Linked DNA regions of Homo sapiens: region 2 is reported to be linked to region 1. The links are microRNA targets in miRTarBase. Many come from high-throughput screens and were not tested one by one. Region 1 holds a microRNA gene; the other region holds the end of a gene's coding sequence.

What was found. Region 1 holds the annotated microRNA hsa-miR-29c-3p (UAGCACCAUUUGAAAUCGGUUA, at 3,297-3,318, shown strand). A microRNA usually pairs through its seed, bases 2 to 8, with sites in the 3' UTR of a target mRNA and lowers its output. Matches are read on the target gene's strand: a 7mer-m8 pairs with bases 2 to 8, a 7mer-A1 pairs with bases 2 to 7 and ends in A, and an 8mer does both.
Region 2: the mRNA of COL4A2 is a reported target of hsa-miR-29c-3p. Seed matches in the 3' UTR shown: 7mer-m8 at 1,080-1,086.

Annotation. Positions count from the first base shown.
Region 1 is chr1:207,799,806-207,805,182 of GRCh38, reverse strand. MIR29C (microRNA 29c) reads left to right here and starts at 3,244; the gene lies at 3,244-3,331. MIR29B2CHG (MIR29B2 and MIR29C host gene) reads left to right here. Exons shown (of 6, transcript NR_135299.1): 6 at 2,521-3,665. MIR29B2 (microRNA 29b-2) reads left to right here and starts at 2,660; the gene lies at 2,660-2,740.
Region 2 is chr13:110,511,140-110,516,516 of GRCh38, forward strand. It overlaps COL4A2 (collagen type IV alpha 2 chain), which reads left to right. Exons shown (of 48, transcript NM_001846.4): 48 at 795-2,070. The coding sequence ends at 1,052. Among named protein-coding and RNA genes, the nearest start is that of COL4A2-AS1, 5.6 kb to the left of the region's middle. RefSeq lists enhancers at 777-1,405, 3,131-3,630.

The DNA of each region.
Region 1 (5,377 bases):
GGGGACAGAAGTGGACCAGGCTAGAGTATAGCTCCCACACCTTTCCCATGCGTGGCAGCACTCGTAAGACTGACATGCCCACCCTTCTGGATGGGTGGTTTTCCTCCCCAGACAGCCCTGCCAACCCTTTCACCTTCAGCCAGTTTGTTTGGAGTCATTAGGCTGAGGTGGGTAAAACCCATCACCCTCCTTGGATGGCAGAGCTCTCAGCAGGCTGGGATTTTCATGGGCTGCCTTCTTACAGGTCTAGGTGGCCTTCAGGCATGGTGCCAGGGAAAGCAAGCCCCTTCCAGCCCTTACCAAACTAACTGGCTGCTTCCTAGTAGGGAACAGCCACCAGCTTGTTTCAGCGAAGAGTCATTGCTCAGCTGATTCTGAGAGGAGAAAACTGGTTCTGTTGGGAGGGCTGAGACCTGAAGGACCCCTTTTATCCAGTGGAATTGGAAAGGCAAAGGATTTCAATACTAACATGATTTTTTTCTCCACTTCTTTTAGAGTGTTTAATTAAAGTGATGCATTGTTAATGGCTTCTTATCTCTTCTTCCAGAGAGTAAAGAGTTAAATTTTAGAATCCAGGAGTGGGGACCCAGACTGTGGCTTCTGTTAACTCCCTCAGTGGCAGTGGCGTCCTGCTATGCACAGCCCCTCTGCTGTACTCCGAATGGTCCCTTACGGGTAGCAGGAGAGACATTAAATAATCACACTGATGACCAAGTGAGATAAGTGGTTTTTGAAGGAAAGAACTTGAGGCTGGCGAGGACCACTTAACCTTCTAGCAAGGGCTGGACTCAGGGAGGCTTTCCTGAGCTGCGGGGAGGATGACAGGTTCCCTGGAGTGGTGGTGGGTGGGGGCGGGGCTGAGGGGTGGTAGCCAAGGGAGGGTGAAGGAGAGTATTCCAGAAGAGACAACAGCTTAGGCAGGCAGGACCTCGCCATGGAGGAAGGTGCTTTCTGATCACTGCGGGACACCTGTGTGATAGCTCATAGGGAGGGGGTACTGGTAACTAAAAGTTGATAAGGAAGAGTGGCTAAAATGAAAAGCAGAAAAGTGAGAATCTCATCAAATCCCCTCATTTGACAGGATTTGGACTCCCAGTAGTAACTGTCCTTAAACACTCACTCCTGACCTTACAACCCTGGCTGTTACCTGGTTAACAAGCCCCAGGTGTTGGCTACAGGTGTCATCACTGAGAGCCCTTGTGTGCAGATCTGCCCCAGCTCTCCCACCTGTGACTGAGGCTAGCAAGTCCCCCGTGGGCTGTAGAGCCTAGCGCTGGTGTCAGAATCGCTTGTTGCAGGTTCATCTTCAGTGTCTTTCCCACAGCCACATGCTGGGGAAAGACGGCAAAGGCGCTAGAGGAGCAGGAGAACAAAGCAAGCTGCCCCAGACCACCCGGCTTTCGCAGAACCCAGATGATGCTCCTGTCTCCCCCTAAGTATAACGTGTTATGTAGTCAGTATGATCCCATTCAGTGCAGAAGTATCGCCTAGGAATTTCCTGCCCCACCCACCCTGTTTTGTTCTTAATGAAGTTCAAGAACAAAATGAGATGATAGTCAAGTTATGGAGCAGGCTGCAGTGGATACAAGGGCAGAAACACAGTCTTTGGAGTTAGACCTGGGATCTGCATTGATTGGTTGTGTGACTGCAGACAAGTTATTTAGCCTCATTAAGGATGAATTTCTTCGCAAAAATTGGAATAATACCTGCCCCATACGACTGTTGTGAGAATTAAACACCGCAACTTTTGATGTTCAAATTCTATTTCTTCTCCTTCTAGCAACACATACTGTTAGTGCCAGGAACCATAAAAATTATAAGGCTGTATCTAGAGGCCTGAAAGGAAGCTAAAATATACAGTGTCTACTCTGTCTCTTTTCTCTTGGTTATGGTATCAGAGGAAATACACATATTTTCTTAGCTTCAAACCACCAAAAAAGATGATGCAGTAAGGAGATGGGAAATCTAATTTGGAATACAGTGTGCAAATCTTATTTTCAAGCAGACTTTGAAAATAAAACTCAATTCTTACGTTAGAGGATTATCTGCTTAATACAATTATAGGGTACCAGTTTTTGAAGTCACATCGGGGTTAAATAAGATTGCAGGTTCATGGGGTCATATTTGAATGTTCTGATACTTACATATGGGGTGGGAAGGAGGAATGCATGCTTTTCTCAAGTTAAGACACATAAAAGAGTTGTCCTGGCCCAGGTGAGACTCGCCTTTGTGTAGCAGCTGGAGCTTCATTCCACAGGCAGATAGGGTGCTTGTGTCCTGATGAAGTAAGAGAATATATCTGGAAACACTTTGTGTACTGTGAAATACTATACAAATGCAGGGCAGTACAAATGTAAATATTAATGTATTTTAGTAATAATTTTAGCTTTTATTTCATCATATATAATAATTTGTAGTGACTGGTGTGAAGTTAAATAGAATTAACCTAGAATTAATGAGTTTTGTATTGCTCTCATCTATTTGAAGCATCAGCTGTGCCTTTCATGTTGCCTTGTGCAGCCCTGTGTAACCTCCTCTGTGCCTTTCCCATGGAGCACTGTGTCATATCACAAGTAGAACTACAAGAAGATATTTCTCCTCAGGGCAGAGGCTGGGTCTTCCGATTGAATCTCCCTTCTTTCTTCATTGAGATCCTCTTCTTCTGGAAGCTGGTTTCACATGGTGGCTTAGATTTTTCCATCTTTGTATCTAGCACCATTTGAAATCAGTGTTTTAGGAGTAAGAATTGCAGCACAGCCAAGGGTGGACTGCAGAGGAACTGCTGCTCATGGAACTGGCTCCTCTCCTCTTGCCACTTGAGTCTGTTCGAGAAGTCCAGGGAAGAACTTGAAGAGCAAAATACACTCTTGAGTTTGTTGGGTTTTGGGAGAGGTGACAGTAGAGAAGGGGGTTGTGTTTAAAATAAACACAGTGGCTTGAGCAGGGGCAGAGGTTGTGATGCTATTTCTGTTGACTCCTAGCAGCCATCACCAGCATGAATGTGTTCGTAGGGCCTTTGAGTGTGGCGATTGTCATATTCTGTTGGATAACAATGTATTGGGTGTCGATTGTCATGGGGCAGGGGAGAGGGCAGTACACCTGGAGGACCATTTTGTCCACATCGACACCATCAGTCTGCTCTTAGAGGATGCCCTGGAGTATTCGGCGTTGATTGCGGGGCACCCGAAATCAGACTTGCCACCTGGACTGTCGAGGTGCAGACCCTGGGAGCACCACTGGCCCATCTCTTACACAGGCTGACCGATTTCTCCTGGTGTTCAGAGTCTGTTTTTGTCTAGCACCATTTGAAATCGGTTATGATGTAGGGGGAAAAGCAGCAGCCTCGAAGCCTCATGCCAACTCTGGGCAGCAGCAGCCTGTGGTTTCCTGGAAGATGGATGGGCAGAGAATAGGGAAGGAAGATCATGCTTTTCCCTACTAACTTCTGTAACTGCATGTATGATACATTATTGCAGAGGTAAGAGATAGTTTAATGGATTTTTAAAAACAAATTACTATAATTTATCTGATGTTCTCTAGTTGCATTTTGCTGAAATGTAGTGCTGTTCTAAATTCTGTAAATTGATTGCTGTTGAATTATCTTTCTGTTGAGAAGAGTCTATTCATGCATCCTGACCTTAATAAATACTATGTTCAGTTTATCATGTCTGTGTTTTTCATCTATTATTTCCCATTCATAATTCTGTGATGATAAGAAGTGGGTCCTGAAAAATTAATTGGCTGTGCAGATCTTGCCTACTTCATAAAGAATTTGAAGTAGGTTACAGCCAGCCAGACATTAAAAATGAAGCCCATTAAGAGAAGAATGAAATTCTATGAGCCAAGAAATAAAATGAGAGAAAAGATTAGGGAAGAGAAGAAATGTTGAAGATCAAGGCTGAGGGATGCTCCCTACTGAATGGGAAAACTCCTTAGTTCCACATGGGCTGTAGACACAGCCCTTCTGCCAGCAACTGTTCCTGCAAGGAACTGGTGCTCAACTAAACATACTGTCACATGGTTCCTTGAAGGGGCACAGCACTGATTTCACTTGCATTATAAAAGATTGAGTGGTGCTTTTGACTATTAGTTTATGTCAACACTTCAAAACAAGATGAGCCAGTTTTTTTTTGTTTTTTTTTTTTGTTTGTTTGTTTGTTTTAGACGGAGTCTCACCCTGTCACCCAGGCTGGAGTGCAATGGCACTGTCCCCGCTCACTGCAACCTCCGCCTCCCGGGTTCAAGCAATTCTGCCTCAGCCTTCCGAGTAGCTGGGATTACAGGCGTGGCACCTCCACGCCCAGCTAATTTCTGTATTTTGTAGTAGAGACGGGGTTTCATCATGTTGGCCAGGCTTGTCTCGAACTGCTGACCCCGTGATCCACCCACCTCAGCCTCCCAAAGTGCTGGGATTACAGGCGTGAACCACCTCGCCTGGCCCAGTGAGCCAGTTTTGTAAAGCTATTCAGAGATTAGCCAGATTTGATTTGATAGGGGATCAAGCTTGTAGGATCTTCAGGAAGGCGGGCTGTGGCCCCTTGATCAGGCTTTTTGCACAGGAGGTGCATGACTATGAACTACCCTCAGTAGAACTCTTTTAAGCCAGTGGCTTGCAATAAATGATGGCAAATCAGCCACCTAGGAAGCCATTTCTAAGCCCAACCCCCTGCCACAGTCTTCCTCTAGATGGCTGCCCTGCCCAGTGGGCTGAGAGTGGGGGGCGGAAGTAGCATTTGCTGGGAAGACTTGCCAGTACATATGTTGCACCCCCTCACTGCAGCTGCAGTGCTATTTCAGGCTGTTGATGGAAGAACCCATGTTCTAATCCCCAGGATGTGGTGGGAAGACCCTAAGTGGTGGTGTTAGTTAAGACCCTAAGTTATATTGTTTTGTTCACTTCCCACTGAGATAGGCTACAATAGTATTAAATACCTATAGGTCAGACATTTTTGGGGTCTGTTGTACTACCTACCAATTAAACAGTTTTTGATCCGCCCACCACGCTCAAAGCTCCAGCCTAGGTGTTGCAAATACAGACGACAGATTTTTGCTCTCAGGAGGCCCTGATTCCAGTCCTCAAACGAGTAAGTGTGAAATTGAGTGCAGCATTAAAGCACAAAAACAATGATTTGAGACGTCTTTTCTATAAAAGAAGTTTATAGCACTCTCATTGAATGCTTAAATAGTGCCACACTGCTAAGTCGTGAGAAGCAAAATGTAACTGCGGTGCCTCAAACAGGATTATTTTGTTTTATTCATTTGGATGCGGACAGCTCTTTATCTAAAATTGCCATTCTGAGGTGGTTTTGCACAATAAATTGGTAATTATGTAGACTGTTTCTTCCAGAGACAGCATCTTGAATCGGGTTTATGAAGC
Region 2 (5,377 bases), not on the chromosome of region 1:
GGCCCTTATACACCAACTCTGGGATCCAGGAGGCCTGCCGTGCGCTTCCATAAAGGCTAAACATGTTGATGCAACAGAAAGTAGAACTTTAAAATGAAAAAAAAAAAAAGGCTTCCTTGAAGACCTCAGCCATCTCCCAGCCAGCCTCAGAATCAACTATTTAACAACCTCTGATTGAAAAAATATATATTTAATTACACAAGTAATACATATTTATTGTGAAAAATCAGCAAGTACAGATTTAAAAAAAAAAATAAAACCACTCATCTTTCCTCCCTGATCATCAGCATTTTCAGAGAAGGAGCTGGGAGGCCTGGCTGGGTGATTATTTTTAACTTATTAGCCTCAGATGCCAGCCTACATCTTAATTTTATTTTTTTCTTCTAAAAAGAGTAAACATTGTGTTATCTCTTCTGCCAGGTATTTTTCTTTGAATGGATGATTAGGCAGATGTTTTGTTTTGTTACTGAAATGCAGTGGATTATATCTACCGCTCGTATCTGCTGTCACGGCTCTAGTTCTTACCGAACGGCCAGCCTGGCTGTGAATTAGTGTCCATGCAGCTGCCTCTGCAGCACGTCCTGGTGCCTGGGGCTGCCTCCTGCAGGGGGCCCATGTGTATTTCACCAGCCCCCTCTTGCTGAAGGCGCATTCGCGAGGATGCCTCATGTCCGTATTGACACTCATGGTTTGCTGTTCAGTAAAAACAAATGCACAGAAGAGGGCTATGCCCTGACCCCGTGCCACCTGCAGGCTGTGATTCCTAACCCTGTCCTGCCCCCCTCTCTGTGCAGCACACGGCGGCGGGAGACGAAGGCGGTGGCCAATCACTGGTGTCACCGGGCAGCTGTCTAGAGGACTTCCGCGCCACACCATTCATCGAATGCAATGGAGGCCGCGGCACCTGCCACTACTACGCCAACAAGTACAGCTTCTGGCTGACCACCATTCCCGAGCAGAGCTTCCAGGGCTCGCCCTCCGCCGACACGCTCAAGGCCGGCCTCATCCGCACACACATCAGCCGCTGCCAGGTGTGCATGAAGAACCTGTGAGCCGGCGCGTGCCAGGAAGGGCCATTTTGGTGCTTATTCTTAACTTATTACCTCAGGTGCCAACCCAAAAATTGGTTTTATTTTTTTCTTAAAAAAAAAAAAGTCTACCAAAGGAATTTGCATCCAGCAGCAGCACTTAGACCTGCCAGCCACTGTCACCGAGCGGGTGCAAGCACTCGGGGTCCCTGGAGGGCAAGCCCTGCCCACAGAAAGCCAGGAGCAGCCCTGGCCCCCATCAGCCCTGCTAGACGCACCGCCTGAAGGCACAGCTAACCACTTCGCACACACCCATGTAACCACTGCACTTTCCAATGCCACAGACAACTCACATTGTTCAACTCCCTTCTCGGGGTGGGACAGACGAGACAACAGCACACAGGCAGCCAGCCGTGGCCAGAGGCTCGAGGGGCTCAGGGCCTCAGGCACCCGTCCCCACACGAGGGCCCCGTGGGTGGGCCTGGCCCTGCTTTCTACGCCAATGTTATGCCAGCTCCATGTTCTCCCAAATACCGTTGATGTGAATTATTTTAAAGGCAAAACCGTGCTCTTTATTTTAAAAAACACTGATAATCACACTGCGGTAGGTCATTCTTTTGCCACATCCCTATAGACCACTGGGTTTGGCAAAACTCAGGCAGAAGTGGAGACCTTTCTAGACATCATTGTCAGCCTTGCTACTTGAAGGTACACCCCATAGGGTCGGAGGTGCTGTCCCCACTGCCCCACGTTGTCCCTGAGATTTAACCCCTCCACTGCTGGGGGTGAGCTGTACTCTTCTGACTGCCCCCTCCTGTGTAACGACTACAAAATAAAACTTGGTTCTGAATATTTTTAAACCCCGAGTTGTTGACCGCCTTAATCTCGTGTCCATAGAGCAAAACGTCTGCTCAGATGGATGCGAGGCACAGCGTCCGCCCACGCTGCTGTTTTTAATCCATCTCAGTAGAGTTGAACCCATTCGTGGTATTACAGCCATTTCTCGGGGAATGTGTTTGTTTATAACTCACTAATGCTTACAGAAAACACCCCAACCAGGCCATGCGTGCTGGCTCACGCCTGTAATCCCAACACTTTGGGAGGCCGAGGCAGCTGGATCACCTGAGGTCAGGAGTTCGAGACCAGCCTGGCCAACATGGTGAAACCCCGTCTCTACTAAAAACATAAAAATTTTCCGGTGATTGTAATCTCAGCTACTCGGGAGGCTGAGGCAGGAGAATCACTTGAACCCGGGAGGCAGAGGTTGCGGTGAGCTGAGATCGTGCCACTGCACTCCAGCCTGGGCAACAAAAGTGAAACTCCATCTAAAAAAAAAAAAAAAAAAAAGAAAAGAAAACACCTGAACCAGCACTTGTGGGAATTTGGAGAAAGGGTACTTCACAAATGTAAGTCATTCAATTTGTTCCAACATAGGCTGGGTGCAGTGTCTCACATCTGTAATCCCAACACTTTGGGAGGCTGAGGTGGGAGGATCACTTGAGCCTAGGAGTTTGAGACCAGCCTGGACGATATAGTGAGATCCATGTCTACAAAAAAAAAAAGATCCCACATAACTTCCCAAGTCAAAGCTCAGTATTTCAAAGAAACAATCTCCGAGATTCAACTCACAGTTTATTTTGACCCTCTGAAATGCAATCTCAAATTGAAGTTTTCCTAAGAAAAAGGTTCACATTATGAAATAAGTATCCTACCTTATAATGTTATTTGAAATAGATACGCAGCCGCCCTGGCGCGTGTTCCCCCAGAAGCTGGCTGAGGCCACGACCTCTACACAGCACGGCTATATGGGAAGGCGATATCAGGAAGCCTGAGTGGGACCTGGAGGGGGTGATACCAGGAAGAAGAAAAGCCAACTCAAGGACATGGGACTAAGGGGGTTACCACTGTGGGCTGTTTAGGCTTGATCCTGCTGGGGATCCACCAAGGAAGGATCCTCAGATGGTCCAGCCATGGCTTGGAAAGGGAAGTGTTCTCCATCAGCTGCGGTCTCGACTGGTCAGGGGTTGCCTGAGGGTGCTAATTCCCTCACACTCCCAGGTGCACCACACACCAGCATGGCTGAGTGGGCTCCTGCCAGATGCCAGGTGGAGGTGGTAGAGAACCAGGCAGAGCTGAGACACGGTGTGTCAGGCCACACCTGCTCATGGCCAGTCACCACAGCAATAGCTGTAGCAAAACAGTGGGCCCAGAGCGTGTGAGACGGGGATCAAGAGACCAGAGCTCGCAACCACAGCAACTCTAGAAGCTGGGAAGCAACAATTCATTCTAGACTCCACCCCTACTGCCAAGGAGGCAACCGCAAAGTGTGCTGCAGTCCTGAAGACCCCTGCTCGACTTGAGGTAGGCTTGATACCTTGTGTGTGGATCACACCTCAGCGTCAGTGCCCAGTGTTAAACATAAAAGAAATGTTTCACCCTAGACCTAAAATAAATGAGAAGACAAAGATCCTCAACAAATAATTGGTTTCCAAAATGTGGATCATAAAATATAAACCAATCACAATTCATAACCCTGACATCTGTGCCAGGGAGCCCACGATCCCGCTGAAGTATAGTGAGTGGAGATGCCTCATCTGGAATCGAACCGCTGAACATCCTGCACCTTGAAAATCAGAGCTCTGTCCTTCATGGATCCTGCATGTTGCAAAAGACAGATTTTTTCCAGGCTAGTTTCTTGGTGCCAGGAATAACTGCTCCCTGAGAGCTGAGTGTGCTTGAACCACCCTCTAATGATGTGCCACATTTTCCAGAGGGTGGGTGCCCCAAAGTCAGAATCACTTCCATCTCCCAGCTGCTTCAGACAGTGACTTTCAGCACCCCTGGCAGAGACGCTGCTGGAATGCGCATGAAGATGCGTCTGCAGCCATCCTGACTGGGTAGGGGCGCCCAGGAAGACTCACAAGCCCTGGAGAGCACATCAGCCTTTAAACCACCCAAGAAGAGCACGTTGGCAAGGACGGCCTGGATGGGTTGCTTCAGTGGGCTGGGCCTCCGGTAAAATGAATGAAAGTACCTGTGCATCAGAGTGACATCAGGAGAATGAAATCAGTCACTACACGTGAACGTGCCCAAAGCCGCAGGTATGTATGCACTCGTACGTGTCCAGGACCTAAGAGGAAGGAGGTAGAGAATCGCTGCAACCTGGGAGTTCTAAATGTGTTGAGGTTGAGGACTGTGATTTAAAATGCACAGTGCAGGGAAGGGAGGAGAATGATTTGGAAAGTAAATTCCATGACATGCTAGACAAGGAAGGGAAGGGTAACACTGAGCTGATCTTAAAGTGACAGACCAAACCCAAGCAGATGTCTTGAAGGCAACGAGGGAACAGCATCCTCACCTCCCACACGTGGTACAGCAAGAGCCTCACTCTGCAGACTCAGGAAGGCACCAAGCTACAAACATCTATGAGCTATTTGTATTCATACAGCATAAGTTCAGCTCAGCCAATAAAATGTAAGGCTGTCCTTCCCCCTGAGAAATACTCAGTGCTTCTGGTTACACCTGGAGGTGGCTTTTCCTTGAGGCTGCCTTCCTGGAAAAGGGCCATCCACTTATTTAAAAAGAAAAAACCACAGAAGTTTCAGGAGCTCATTGAAGCCGGTAGGGGAAACGTGCTATTAATAATATAAGTAATTTGGAAATGAGTGGCGTCTCTAAGAACAAAGGCAAAGAGAACTGCACACAGCATTGTACTCTAGTGGATAAAGTTGTTTCTTGCAGGAGTACCAGTGAACAGTGCTGACACTATATTCATGCTAAAACTGAACCATTGGTTGGGCGCGGTGGCTCACGCCTGTAATCCCACAACAGAGCGAGACTCTGTCTCAAAAAAAAAAAAAAAAAAAAAAAAAAGAACCATTAATTAAGCGGATGGTCGATGGTGGGAGCCATGTTTCTCATTGTTGAAGGAGAATTTACAGCAAAGTGGGGAAATGACACAATGGTTAGAGTCCGAGATATCAGTAGGAACTCGGGTTTAACCTATTATAGACACCTATAGTCACATAAAGAAATATCTGTAGGGGTTAGTACAGACACATGTATTTCTTCACTCTGTCAGCTGAGAGGGCCTCAGAGAAGCAGCCCTGCAGGAGCAGTGAGCACACCTGGCCCCAGATCTGGGATTCTAACACTTCTCCAATAAAAGGACCCGAGGCTCCTCGGGGAGATGGCTGATTCCGAGACGGGGGCAGGAAATATAGACCATGAGACTGGAACATCTTGTAGTGCCAGAAAGTAAGGAAGTGCTCAAATAAAACCCCAAATGGAGACATGTGGAAGGGACACGGGAGCCATCTGAAAGAGCTCCCAAGATGAAGCCATCTGAA